Linked DNA regions of Homo sapiens. The protein of the gene in region 1 interacts with the protein of each later gene in a pairwise test. Each region holds a gene or a part of one and is shown in the gene's direction. Other genes may lie near its edges.

Region 1 (7,026 bases):
AAATACCATTCTGGCTTAGACCATTTCTCCATTCGAGATTCAGTATATAGATGGTATGTTAGACTACTCCAGAGAAACAGAACCAATAGGGTATGTGTGTGTATGTATGTGTGCATGCATGTGTATATGTGAGTATGGATAAAGAGAGAGATTTATTATAAGGAATTGGCTCACATGATTATGTTGGTTGGTAAGTCCCAAGATCTGCAGGGTGATCCAGCAAGGTAGACACCCAGGAAAGCTGGTGGTATACTTCTAGTCCAAAGGCTGGCAGGCTCAAGACTCAGGAAGAGCCAATGTTTCAGTTCTACTCTGAAGGCTGGAAAAAAGCTGATGAGCCAGTTCAAAGGCTTTCAGGCAGGAAGAATTCTCCTTTATGTGAAGGAGGATCAATGCGTTTGTCCTATGTAGGCCTTCAACTGATTGGATGAGGCCTACCCACATTAGGGAGGGCAATCTGCATTACTTGATCTACTGATAATAAATGTTAATCTCTTCTAAAAACGTGCTCATAGAAACACCCAGAATAGTGTTTGACCAAATATGTAGGCATCCTATGGCCAAGTCAAGTTGACACATAAAATTGACCATCACAGATGGTGACACTATTGGACGTTTTGTAGAATGTTACTATCAGCTTCATATAGTGTGGCCATATCACTTTAAAAAATCTCATTTCCACCATGATTTTCCCCTGACCCAGGTTGGATGAGTATACCTATTGAAATCATCAGGTACTTACTAACTGATATGCGTGCATGCATGCATGTGCAGGAGCTTAGAAAATGATATCCCAAAATGGAGCCCTCAGAAGTAGCTCTCTCTGACCTTCTCCTGCCCTCCTATCTCTGGCCTTGCATTCATCCCTGAGGCTAGCCCTAGAAAATAGAATCTCTTTTCCCAAGGCAGGTCGTAGAAATAAGAACCCCTTTTCCCCCCAAACCAGCCATAAAACCTAAAACTATCACTCTAGCTTTCCCCTGCCTTCCTTTGTAAAAACTGGCCATAAAGAAATTATCTGACCTACCGTGTTTGATTGTAGCTCACAACAGTTCCAGAGAGGGTCATGACCTATAACCATAAAGAAAGAATGCTGCACAGAGAGGACAAGAAGAATCTAGACAGACAGGCCTTGGTGGGTTTTACCAGTTTGTTAGCCATAGATATAACCCTTTGTCCAATCATATTGCTGCAGAGCTGTCCATACTTTGTTGAATCTAAGCATAAAAATGGACTCCTGTATCTTTGGGTCTTCAGTCTGAAGGTTTCAGTGTCATGCAAAACTATGATTAAATAAATTTGTATGCTTTTTCTCATATTAGTATGCCTTTTGTCAGTTGATTTTTACTGAAATTTCACCCCTACACATGCATATATACATACATACACATATCCTTTTGTTCAATAAACATTCATTGAATACTTACCATAATGCCAAACATTGTTCTAGGTACTAATGATACAAGAACCAATGTCCTTGCCTTCATGGAGTTGATGTCCTGGCAGAGAAACATCTTTGAATACATTGCATCTATCTCCTTATTTTGTTATGTGTTTGGGGGAATACATACGTTTTAACTTCCAATTTTGCTTTTTAAGCTTTTCAGAGAAGAGATTATTTTTAATTCCTTGTACCTCACTCAGAAACTAATAGTACCTCCTACATAGTAGGTAGAGTGATATAAATGTTAAAAATTTATTTTATATCAAGTTCATGGTCTATTTAACTTGAGTTTATATAAATTTTTCTTTGTTTATTTTAATGCTATTTAATGTTATTCTTGTAATACTTCGAGATTCTCCTCTACCCCGATCTATTATCTATAGGATTTGTTGGACCCTATCTATAATATTTTTAATTTTATAATTATATCCCTTTTAAACATTCTTTAAGTCCCTTTAACCTTTCTATTCTATAAATGGTCCACAAAAACATTTTGGTTTTTCCACACTATAAGCTAAGACAGTCCCTGAAATCAGAATGACCTGGATTCCAGTTAATGTCCTACCATCCCTTTCTGTTCATGTAATATTAGGAAAGTTTAAAATCTGTACCTCAGTTCTTTCATTGAAAAAAATGAGCGTAATGAAATGCAAAAATGAGGGTACTTACTACAGAATATTGTAATGGAAGTTCTTGCTACAAAGTGTTGTGAGGAATGAAAGATATAATGCACTCAAATTCAAGCAAGTAGTAAGCCAGTCACATAGTAATCTCTTGAAAAATGTTAGTTTAAAAAATATTGTACTTGAATGAAGCTGACCTTCATATATTCCTTACTTTAAGAAATCAAATTGCCAACTATTTTCAAAAATACTCTATATTTTGGAATCTAGTTGAGTTTAAAACCCCACAATCTGATGGACCAACCAGTGGTCATTCAGATTGGGACCAGACTCCCAGGGCAATTATTTGTCTGGGATATGCCTAATCAGGCATGCTTTAGAATAGGTTCAAACCTTTAAAGCCAATATTTAACTAGACCAATTTCCCAGAACAAATAGTAAAAGGTAAAGGAAATAGATGCTTTCTTCTTGACCTTATGTTCTATTTTAATTTATTGTCCGATGTGTTCACATTAACCTCATTGCAGAGAAAGCTGTATTTATTGGCATCAATTTCACTGACTGCCTGCCTTCTCCATTAATACAATCTTCTTGAGTGAGTGAAACATGATTTTCTTTTGTTCTTTTTTTATACTAGTTGTCATTATGCTGGGGTGAGAATTGACAATAGCAAAAGTGATTCTAGCTATCAGTTATTAAGTGCTGACTATTTATCTAATACTACCTGAGGTACTTTACGTATGTAGTTTCTAATTCTCACAGTAAATTTTCAAGGGAGTTAATCATCATCCCTATTTGTTAATGCGAAGAATGAGACTCAGGTACTTTGTCTAAGGTGGCTTGGCTAGTTGGTAACAGAACTGAAGTGCCTTTGCAATTAATCATGTTGTTTTTTTCTATTAAGTCTCTCATGGAGGGCAATGAGAGGTGCTCATACTCTCCAATTTAACATCTATTTTGTAGAGCCTTCTCTTTCCTTATTGATTATTTTCCTATAGTATGAAGATTGTACCCATCCCACCTGGTGCTACGTGTCAGTAGACACATGGTTCAATAGAACAACCTCATAGTTCCCTGTGCCCCTAGTTTCCCTCTTTCATCAGTTAATTCCTGACATAGGGGGAAGTGGATATTGAAGAGTAATACCACCTTAGTTCTTTATGCAACCTGGGAAATTGGTCACCTGATGGTTCCTGCCTATGACATGGAAAATGATGGGCCAGGTCCTTTTGCTTTTGAATAAGGTCCCATGTTACTAAATTATTCAAAAAAGATGAATTTAGCTTCCAGGACACAGAGTGAGCAGCTTTTATTTAGCTTGTCCTACCAATAGGGAGGGCTGTTGCTGCATTTATTTGTTTTTATTTTATCATCTACCTAAAAAGGACATTGGCTAGCGATCCAGAAAGTCAACATTTGCAAAGTAACCTGTCAAAATTGACAAGATCAATTTATTAGAAAAAAATGGTTTAGGTGGCAGATGCCATTAGCTAGGATGGCTTCTGTATTGTAATATTTACTTTTATTATTCTCTCTCTTTTTACTTTTGTGCCTATTTTCTTTCTAAAATTGATAGAGGGGAAGTGAGTCTGGGTGGTTCTGTCTCAAAATTTCTCCCAGCAGGTGATCCTGGCACTCATCCGTAACGATGTCCTTTTTAGAGAAGCTAGAGGATGGCATGAAAACCAGGTTAAGCATTCTTCTATTTACTTCAAGCTGTGTAGTCAGTTAGAGATGGTTCACATCACTTCAGGTCCCACCTGAGCAGTTCTGACTGCTGCTCACTAAAACCTATTTGTGGGAAATCATAGGAGAAACATAAACTTGGATTTTCTCCTTAAAATGGAGGAAGGCCAGGGATAAAATTGAATAAATATATAACAGAAACACATTTGCCTTTGTAAAATGTTTAAACCTTCTTAGACTTCTGATATCTTTATAGCTATCTGAAGATCATTTTATTCTAATTAAATATTATGTGCTGGGGAAACAAAAGTCAATAAGAGACATGATCCTGGCCTCTGTTAATGTAGAGTATAGTGGGAAGAAAAGACATTAAACTAATTATACATACAAAGAAAAGATGCATGATAAATGTTAAGAAGAAAGAGTGAGAGCATTATGAGAGAACTTACAATAAAAGGACCTAGCCCAGTAGGTTTTAGAGGAGTGATGGGGGAGATGTGTTAGGGAAAGCATCCCTGAGGAACTGATATTTTCATGGGTACCTGAAAGGTGGGCAAGAGGGAATTAGGCTGAGAGCTGAATGATGAGAGTTCAATGCAGTGGACACATCAAATTGGAACTGTTTTGAAGCAGTAGGAGGAGGTTAGTGCATTCAAGGAATAAAAGATCATTATGACTGGACGGTAGTGAGTGAGGGAGAAAATGGTAAAAGATGATGCTCAAGACTAAGGCAGGGCCAGGTTATACAGGGCTTTGTAAGCAATGTTAAAGATTTTATACTCTAAGTGCGATGGGAAGCCATTGAAGGGTTTTATGCAAGAGAGGGACATGGTCAAATTTACTAAGCTCAGACATAACTCTTGAGACTATTTATTTATCCATTTTAAAATTGGGTTTTTCAGAGCTTATAGATTTAAACACATAGTCTTTGTGAAAGTTATTAATTACTTTCACAAGGAAATGCCACTTTCCCAAAAACTTTGCTCCAAGCAGTTGGAAAGGAAGCCTTTCTGGTTAATAAGAGAGGCTATACCATTTCTCCTACCTCTTGATAAATGCTGCTTTTTGGGTGGTTTTGCCAGTGGTGTTTGATTTGGGCGTGTCCACCTACCCCAGTGGTTCTCATACTTTAGCGCGCATCATGACAAGACTAAGGGAGCTTGTTAAACATGGATTGCGAGGCTCAATTCCCAGAGTTTCTTATTCAGTATGGTCGGGTTGGGGCCCAGGAATGTGCATTTTCTAGTACATAGGTGCTGCTGGTCTGGGGTTCATACTTAGAGAACCACTGACATATATATATATACACACACACACACACATATACATATACACCTTGGTGTATATATATGTGTATATATATATATATATATACACACACATATATATATAGTATATATATATAATATGTGTGTGTGTGTGTGTGTGTATATATATATATATATATATATATATATATATATACTTTGCAGAACACCTTGTGGCCATTGGGATACATTTTCAAGGCGTTCATCTGGGGCATGAAGAATTTTCTAGGACTGTGAACTTAAGTCCCCTTAAACACACACTCATACCACCAACAATAACAGCATATTGTTCTCTTCAAAGGAATATTATGAGAAAACGTAGAATCAGTTAACTTAGCTGAGGTCTGGGACAGGGCCATGGACTAAGTGAGGCAAGTAGGGTGAGGCATCCTAAATAAATAAAAACAGAGTGAAGCAGAGCTGCCCTTGTTGGAATAAAGGAGATGGTGGATATGTGTTGAAAGTGCAAATTATTTGCACCTTCCCCAAGCAGGGGCCTTAGAAAAGCCCTCAGGCAAGATGGAGTACTGTTTACAAGCCCCTTGCTCTAATCTTTGAACAGAATGATGCACACTGTCTTGAACAGAGATTGATCTCTTGGGCTAGCTAGAACTATGTTTCTTCTAACATTTACATTTGATTTTTTAAAAACTGGAGTGCTTACTAGGGTGTAGCATTATTTAAGGGTCAATGAAAGAGATGAAAGTGTATGAGATCTGAAGACCCGACATGAAGGAGCCTTGAGTATTATTACATAGATAAGATACAACTAAAGCATGCAGATATTTTGAATCAATGTCAAAATTAGTACTAAAGGCAGTGATGGTTGAAGAATATCATAGAGAGGAAGGATCACACTGAGCTGGAGTGGCTACAGAAAGGAAGCTTTGGGATGAACTTTAGCTGGATTTTTAGTGACTAGGAACGTGAGATTTCCCAGGTAAAGATGAACAGGATCTTTCAGTGTGCTTTTTTCCTCCCTCATTCCATCTTCATTTCTTTCTTTTTCTATACACAAAGCTGAATAAAAGTAGATTTGCTTGTAAATCAAAATTTTTTGAAAACTGGAAGGTGAGTACTAGTTTACTAAGGAGACTTAATGACCCAATTGTACTTTCTTTCAGTTTATGGTTCATAATTCATTCTTTTTATTTGTTATGTTGCCTAGGCTGGAGGGTAGTGGTGCGATTTCAGCTCACTGCAACCTCTGCCTCCCGAGTTCAAGCGATTCTCGTGTCTTAGCCTGCTTAGTAGCTGGGATTGCAGGCATGCACTACCATACCCAGCTAGTTTTTGTATTTTTAGTAGAGATGGGGTTTCACCATGTTGGCCAGGCTGGTCTCAAACTCCTGACCTCAAGTGATCCACCCACTTCAGCCTCCCAAAGTGCTGGGATTACAGGTGTGAGCCACCGTGCCTGGCCTCATAATTCATTATTTTAAATAAATACTTAACTAATAAATTCTATGCTATGTATACTATATGCTATACATAGAAATAAAACAGGTATAATTTGTAGCTCATGGGCCTTACAGATTAAAAGGGAAGACAATATTAAAGAAATAATTATTAAAATATCCTTGTGTTAAGTGCTAAGAAGGAAAATGTTATGGGAGGGTACTCTAGAGTATGTTTCTAAATTCTGATTCTTCTTAATGAAGACAATTGATCTATTGATGAGAACTTGCATTTCCCTTACAGAGAACCTTTTTCAGGTCCTTTAATGGGAAATATTAATTCCTTTAATAGAGAATATTGCTCTTCTTATTTCATTGCTAACACACATGTTTACTGAAGTGTATACTTGTTCTGCAAAAATGATGAGCTTTAGAGTCAGATGGTTATAGTTTTAAATCATGGCATGCTATTTCTCAATCTATTTCCTTGTCTGTGAGATAAATTAGTATAATGTGTACCAAGCAGCTGGCATATAGTAGCTGCTTAATGAAAAGTAGCTATAGTTATT
Region 2 (7,026 bases), on another chromosome or scaffold:
AAATACGAAACCACTGTCTGTTCCCTATGCTATAATGTACAAGCAACAGAGAATGGGGGGGATTTTAGTAAGTCTTCCTGGCGATGGTGGTTTTAATAATTGGCAACAAAGGCTACAACTGATGCCAATCTATCTCTGGCTAGGGCCCTAGGACTGCCCTCCAGCCTGGGTTCATATGACTTGTTTCTCTGGACAGGTCTGCTCATGTCTGCTCTCACGGTTTTCATCCTGATTCTATACTTTGTGATTGACAACTTTGTGATAAATCGCAGACCATGGCTCCCTGAGTGTACTCCCATCTACATCCAGTACTTTGTCAAGTTCTTCATCATCGGCATCACTGTACTGGTGGTGGCTGTGCCAGAGGGGCTGCCTCTGGCTGTCACCATCTCACTGGCCTACTCTGTGAAGGTGAGACTAGAACAATCCTATCTCTTCCTTTAGGATAGAGATGGGAGAGAAGGGTACCATGTAACCTTTAGTGAAAAGATAAGCCATTCTATCATCTATAAACTTTGGCTGGTGCCTCACAAGAGCAGAAGTCCCTGGTATTATGGAAGGACCATCTCTGTCAGATGCATCAATGTTGAAATGACCCAGCAGAATCTTAAGAGAATGACAAAAATGGTATCTTGGATTTTTTTTTTTTTTTAAGACAGAGTCTCATTCTGTCACCCAGGCTGGAATGCAATGATGCAACCTCCGCCTCCCGGGTTCAAGTGATTCTCGTGCCTCAGCCTCCCAAGTAGCTGGGATTACAGGTGTGCACCACCATGCCCAGTTACTTTTTGTATCTTTTACAGAGACAGGGTTTCACCATGTTGGCCAGGCTGGTCTTGAACTTCTGACCTCAGGTGATCTGCCCGTCTCAGCCTCCCGAAGTACTGAAATTACAGGCATGAATCACTGCACCCAGTCAGTATCTTGGATTTTTGTGTGGGACTGGAAGATGAAATGTGGAGAGATGTTGGCTAGGAAATGGCCTTTGACCTAGATTTAGGAGAGTCCAGTTAGTCCCCCTCTCAAGTCTTTTCTCTTCTCCTTTGTAGAAAATGATGAAAGACAATAACCTAGTACGGCACTTGGATGCTTGTGAGACCATGGGCAACGCCACCGCCATCTGCTCTGATAAGACAGGCACGTTGACCATGAACCGCATGACTGTGGTACAAGCTTATATTGGGGGCATCCATTACCGTCAAATCCCAAGCCCTGATGTCTTCCTGCCCAAAGTCCTGGACCTCATTGTCAATGGCATTTCTATCAACAGTGCTTATACCTCCAAGATTCTGGTAAGCATTTCCTTTGCGTAGACACTTAGAGTGGGTGGTTGGAAGGGAACATCCATTTTCTCTGAAATGAACCCCCTTATTGTTTACACTGCCTAAATTGCCATCCCACATCCCATTTCTCACGCTGGAGTGAACATGTTTGGGTGAGACTACAGAAAAATCCCTGGGAGTCAATGGAGGGTTGGAGGTAAGGGCCTGTAAGAATCTATGGCCAGGAAATACCCTCCCAATTAGCATGTAAAAGCAATGTCTCTAAGGAGGGAAAGTAGAAAGTAACCCAAAGTAGAATTGGGCTTATCAGAAGTAAATTACTCACTTTCTAGAAACAAGCATAGTGTATTAGAATAAGACCCACACAAGGCGAGACACCAGCACTACCACTAGAGCAAACTACAAAATCCCTAAGCCCTGGATGGCACAAGGATCACGGTTACCACTGACCCCTCTCTGCCTACCCTTGAAAAACAACAGGCTAGGCATAGTGGCTCACTTCTGTAATCCCAGCACTTTGGGAAGCCAAAATGGTAAGATCGCTTGAGCCCAGGAGTTCGAGACCAGCCTGAGCAATATTGTGAGACCTCATCTCTACAAAAATAAACAAAATTAGCCAGGCATGGTTGCGCACCTGTAGTCCCAGCTACTCCAGAAGCTGAGGTGGGAGGATCACTTGAGCCTAAGAGGTCAAGTCTGCAGTGAGCTGAGATCACACCACTGCAGTCAAGCCTGGGCAACAGAGCAAGGTGCTATGTCAAAAAGAAAAAGAAAAAAGATGCCAGGTGCTGTGGCTCATGCCTGTAATCCCAACATTTTGGGAGGTTGAGGTGGGCAGATCACCTGAGGTCAGGAGTTCAAGACCAGCCTGGCCAACATGGTGAAACCCGGTCTCTACTAAAAATACAAAAATTAGCTAGGCATGGTGGCAGGTACCTGTAGTCCCTGCTACTCAGGAGGCTGAGGCAGAAGAATCACTTGAACCTGGGAGGTGGAGGTTGCAGTGAGCCAAGGTCGTGCCACTGCACTCCAGGCTGGGCAACAGAGCGAGACTCCATCTCCAAAAAAGAAAAAAAAAAATGTTATTTCCCCTATGAGCTCCAGGTATATAATGTGAAGGCTTTGTAAATGAGTTCTTTCTCCCTAAGTTCTCTGCCTTGTCAAGGCATCTTACTCAATAGTGCTGTGTATATTTCTTCTCCCAGCCTCCAGAGAAGGAGGGAGGCCTGCCTCGGCAGGTGGGCAACAAGACCGAGTGTGCTCTGCTAGGCTTTGTCACAGATCTGAAGCAGGATTATCAGGCTGTGCGTAATGAAGTGCCCGAGGAGAAGCTCTACAAGGTGTACACCTTTAACTCAGTGCGCAAGTCAATGAGCACCGTCATCAGGAATCCCAACGGTGGCTTCCGTATGTACAGCAAGGGCGCCTCTGAGATCATCTTGCGCAAGTGAGCACCCCCGACCACTCTGCTTCCCTTCAAGATCCTCTCCTCAGGAAGGCATGGGTGCACACCCCACACTGAACCCATGTGAATGAGGGAGCCCTCCAGCCAGGTGGTGACATAATAACTAATATCCAAGCGTCTACTCAGGCCACGCATGTTTTTTAAGTGCTTAAGGTGGCTTGTTGTATTTAATCCTCACAACTCAGTAAGGTGGGTACTATGATTATCCCTGTTTTACAGATGAGAAAACAGAGATATAAGGAAGTTAAGTATCTCACTCAAGGTGATACAGCTAATAGTGGCACAGCCAGGATTCAGACCTGGACGATCCTAAGTTTCCATTTCCTAATCTGAAAACAGAGATAGCCATACTCAGCTCCTAAAAGTACTACCCCCTCACTGTAACTAAATGATTCAATGTATGTAAAATGCCTTATACATAACAAGTACTAGAAACGTTTGTTCTGTGTTCTCTTTTCCTTCTCTTTCCTTCCCATTCCCATTTCTGATTACAGGGAATTTACATAACTTTAAAAGTGACTATTCGGCCAGGCGCAGTGGCTCACGCCTGTAATCCCAGCACTTTGGGAGGCCGAGGCAGGCAGAACACGAGGTCAGGAGTTCGAAACCAGCCCGACCAACATGGTGAAACCCTGTCTCTACTAAAAAAAAATACAAAAATTAGCCAGGCATGGTGGTGCGTGCCTGTAATCCCAGCTACTCAGGAGGCTGAGGCAGGAGAATCGCTTGAACCCAGAAGGCAGAGGTTGCAGTGAGCTGAGATCGCACCACTGCACTCCAGCCTGGGTGACAGAGTGAGACTCCATTACAAAAAAAAAAAAGTGACTATTAATAAATTACCCATAGTTCATCAAAAGTTGGCACTATACCTAAGTAGGGCTGAATTAACCAGTGCTCCAACATGGCTTTAGCCACCTTCTTTTAATCAGCACATTCTTGTATAGGAAACCTCCCCCAAACCACCAGCACCACACAGTGAGCACTATTCTAAATACTCGGATTGAAAAAGTCTCTCTGCCTTCAAGAAGTTCAAAAGAGCAGGTGATTCACAAATGACTTGCATTGCATTCACATATGGGTAAGAACAGATGACATGGGAGAATCCCACTCTCTATATATCTAGACCTTAACTCCATCCACAGCCCACCTACCTTGGAAAGAGGGACTCAGCTGGGTGATGAATGAAGGAAATGTTTGGCCACACTTGGAGCAATGTCTTTAGGAATAATACAGAGTTGCCAAAATACCTGTCAATGATTGTAGAAACGTATTGAGTGGGAAGGGAGACACCGCGTTCTTACTGTGCGCCTCCCCAGGTGTAATCGAATCCTGGACCGGAAAGGGGAAGCAGTGCCATTCAAGAATAAAGACAGAGATGATATGGTACGCACTGTCATCGAGCCCATGGCCTGTGATGGACTCCGGACTATCTGCATAGCTTACCGGGACTTCGATGACACAGAGCCCTCTTGGGACAATGAGAATGAGATCCTCACCGAACTGACCTGTATCGCGGTGGTGGGCATTGAGGACCCTGTGCGCCCAGAGGTGAGAGGGTGGGAAGCCACCCAGGAGTCTCAGGAAGTGGGGTACTAGTTCCCTTTCTAGTTGTGACCCCAGGCAGGTAACCTAACTGCCTCTCACTTAGAGGGATAGAAGTTTCTGTGCTTCCTGCTTCACAGGACTGCTGTGGAGTGCCAGTATGATCGAATGTGGCATTCCTAGGACTAATGCTGTCTGAGTGTTGAGAAGCAAAGGGCTTATTGGGCTCATTATTTGGTACTTAAGTGTTGTCAGGAGGTCAATTTAGCCAGGACACCAACTTTGTCTTTAGCTCCCTCCTTTCAATCAACACATTCTTTTTGAGTACCTGCTGTGTGCTGATAACTATTCTAGACACTAGGGGATTGAAAAGTCTCTGCTTCTAAGAAGTTTAGACAGATGGACTATTAATTCTCAAGGCCCAGAGGCATGAGAGGGTGTCATGCATGTGGGAAATTACAAAGAGCTGATATGGTTGGAACATGGGCCAGGTGGGTGGAGAGTGGCAAAAGCTTCTGCTAGAAAAGAAAGCACTGGCCAAATCGCAAAATGCCATTCATGCCCTGCCGAGAAGTCTCAATTGTAAGTGAAAGAGCAAGTTTTTACACCTCACTCCCAAAGCAAATTTCCCCTTCAACTCATGGTACAATAGGGCAAATTCAAATGTGACTGCCGTGGGTAGGACAGAAGTGAGGTGGCACCCAACAGTATCAAAATGACCAGACCTAGCCCATGCTGCATGGCACCACTTCTAGGGTGCCTTTCTCCTGTCTGCCACAAAGGGACAGACAAACAGGGACAGCTTACCAGGGTCATCACCCTCATCTGCGCCTTTCCCCTTTCTTCACTCTCCATAGGTGCCAGATGCTATTGCCAAATGCAAACAAGCTGGCATTACTGTCAGAATGGTGACAGGTGACAACATCAACACAGCCCGGGCCATTGCCACCAAATGTGGCATTCTGACACCTGGGGATGACTTCCTGTGCTTAGAAGGCAAAGAATTCAACCGGCTCATCCGCAACGAGAAAGGCGAGGTGGGTCCTGGCTAGGGGGAACCAGGACCTCACCTGACAAGGAAAAGGCGGGTTCTAGCATAAGGCATCTGGGTCATGTGCGGGAAGGTGGGTGGTTTCTAAAGTGAAAGCTATTCGTAGTGAAACATCTCCTTGTACCAAACTGCTGATATGGTAACATTGGGAGTTGCCGGCTGGGCGCGGTAGCTTACTCCTGTAATTCCAGCACTTTGGGAGGCCACGGCGGGTGGATCACAAGGTCAAGAGATAGAGACCATCCTGGCCAACATGGTGAAACCCCGTCTCTACCAAAAATACAAAAATTAGCTGGGCATGGTGGCGTGCACCTGTAGTCCCAGCTACTGGGGAGGCTGAGGCAGGAGAATCACTTGAACCTGGGAGGCGGAGGGTGCAGTGAGCCAAGATCATGCCACTGCACTCCAGCCTGGGCAACAGAGCAAGACTCCGTCTCAAAAAAGAAAAAAAAAAGAGGGGGGGAGTTGCTTGTGAATGAAGCTTGCTAGCTTCATTCACAAGCTATCTTTTGAGACAGTGTCACTAACTTTTCTTGTCTTTCTGCTTTTTCAGTTTTTTATACTGACTTCCCCCTAGCCCACCCCTCCTGTGTCCCTGCCCTTTGGCTAACAGTGGCTAAAGGAGAATGTGGTCTGGCGGTGGCACAGATCCAAGCTTTCCTGAGCTACATAGAAATCAAACCTAAGACCTCAGAAGCACCACTTTACCCACCCGAGCCAACAGCCAACCCTGGCCCACCTCCCATTAAAGGTCTGGGAAATGGGGGATTGGCTGCCAGGTAGGGACTTGGGAGGAAAAAGAAAAAAAGCAGGGCCTGAATGGTCATCATCCATGAATCTACCCTTGGAGACTGGTTGGCTGTTTCATCTCTGCTTAATCCAGAATAACACTTTCATGTGGGACTGTGGTGTACCCAATCTCCCAGTGACTCCAAGTGTATGGAGAAGTTAAGATTTTCCTGGATAGCTTTTCTGCATTTGACTGATCCAGGTGTGGTCTGGTGTTGGCAGGTAGAGCAAGAAAAGCTGGACAAGATCTGGCCTAAGCTTCGGGTCCTGGCGCGATCTTCTCCCACTGACAAGCACACCCTGGTGAAAGGTGAGGTTGGCTTCCAAATAGGTGCCTGCAACAGCTGAAGGCAGGCCAGGGCGAGGACAGATAAGAACCACCAGCCAAAGCCACTCTCCTGTCCAAATAGGGAGGTCCTAGGAGAGCTCCCAGGCTAGTGGGGAGAACATACAGTTAGCAAACATCTGAGCCCTTGGTGAGTATGACACACAATAAAGTTGTTGGGTTTTTATTTTTTTTATTTTTTGTTTTTATTTTTGGAGACCGAGTCTTGCTCTGTCACCCAGGCAGGAGTGGAGTGGTGCAATCTCAGCTCACTGCAACCTCCGCCTCGTGAGTTCAAGTGATTCTCCTGCCTCAGCCTCCCGAGTAGCTGGGACTACAGGCGCATGCCACCATGCCTGATTAATTTTTGTATTCTTAGTAGAGACAAGGTTTCACCATGTTGACCAGGCTGGTCTCGAACTCCTGACCCCAGGTGATCCGCCCACCTCGGCCTCCCAAAGTGTTGGGATTAGAGCCGTGAGCCACCGCACCTGGCAATTGCATGGGTTCTTAAAAACATGATCATGTCTTATTTACCAATAGTACTGTGAACTAGGCAGGGCAGGTATTC

The links. Proteins that work in one complex are often made in the same cells at the same time.
Region 2: the proteins of RNLS (region 1) and ATP2B4 interact in binary tests that used the Homo sapiens proteins (3 or more experiments, as listed by UniProt).

What each region holds. Positions count from the first base shown.
Region 1 is NC_000010.11:88,573,316-88,580,341, reverse strand, and holds part of RNLS (renalase isoform 1 precursor), read left to right. Parts: intron 1-7,026. UniProt on the Homo sapiens protein: Catalyzes the oxidation of the less abundant 1,2-dihydro-beta-NAD(P) and 1,6-dihydro-beta-NAD(P) to form beta-NAD(P)(+). The enzyme hormone is secreted by the kidney, and circulates in blood and modulates cardiac function and systemic blood pressure.
Region 2 is NC_000001.11:203,706,813-203,713,838, forward strand, and holds part of ATP2B4 (plasma membrane calcium-transporting ATPase 4), read left to right. Parts: intron 1-196; coding exon 197-411; intron 412-1,049; coding exon 1,050-1,292; intron 1,293-2,488; coding exon 2,489-2,730; intron 2,731-4,064; coding exon 4,065-4,296; intron 4,297-5,147; coding exon 5,148-5,327; intron 5,328-6,352; coding exon 6,353-6,440; intron 6,441-7,026. UniProt on the Homo sapiens protein: Calcium/calmodulin-regulated and magnesium-dependent enzyme that catalyzes the hydrolysis of ATP coupled with the transport of calcium out of the cell. By regulating sperm cell calcium homeostasis, may play a role in sperm motility.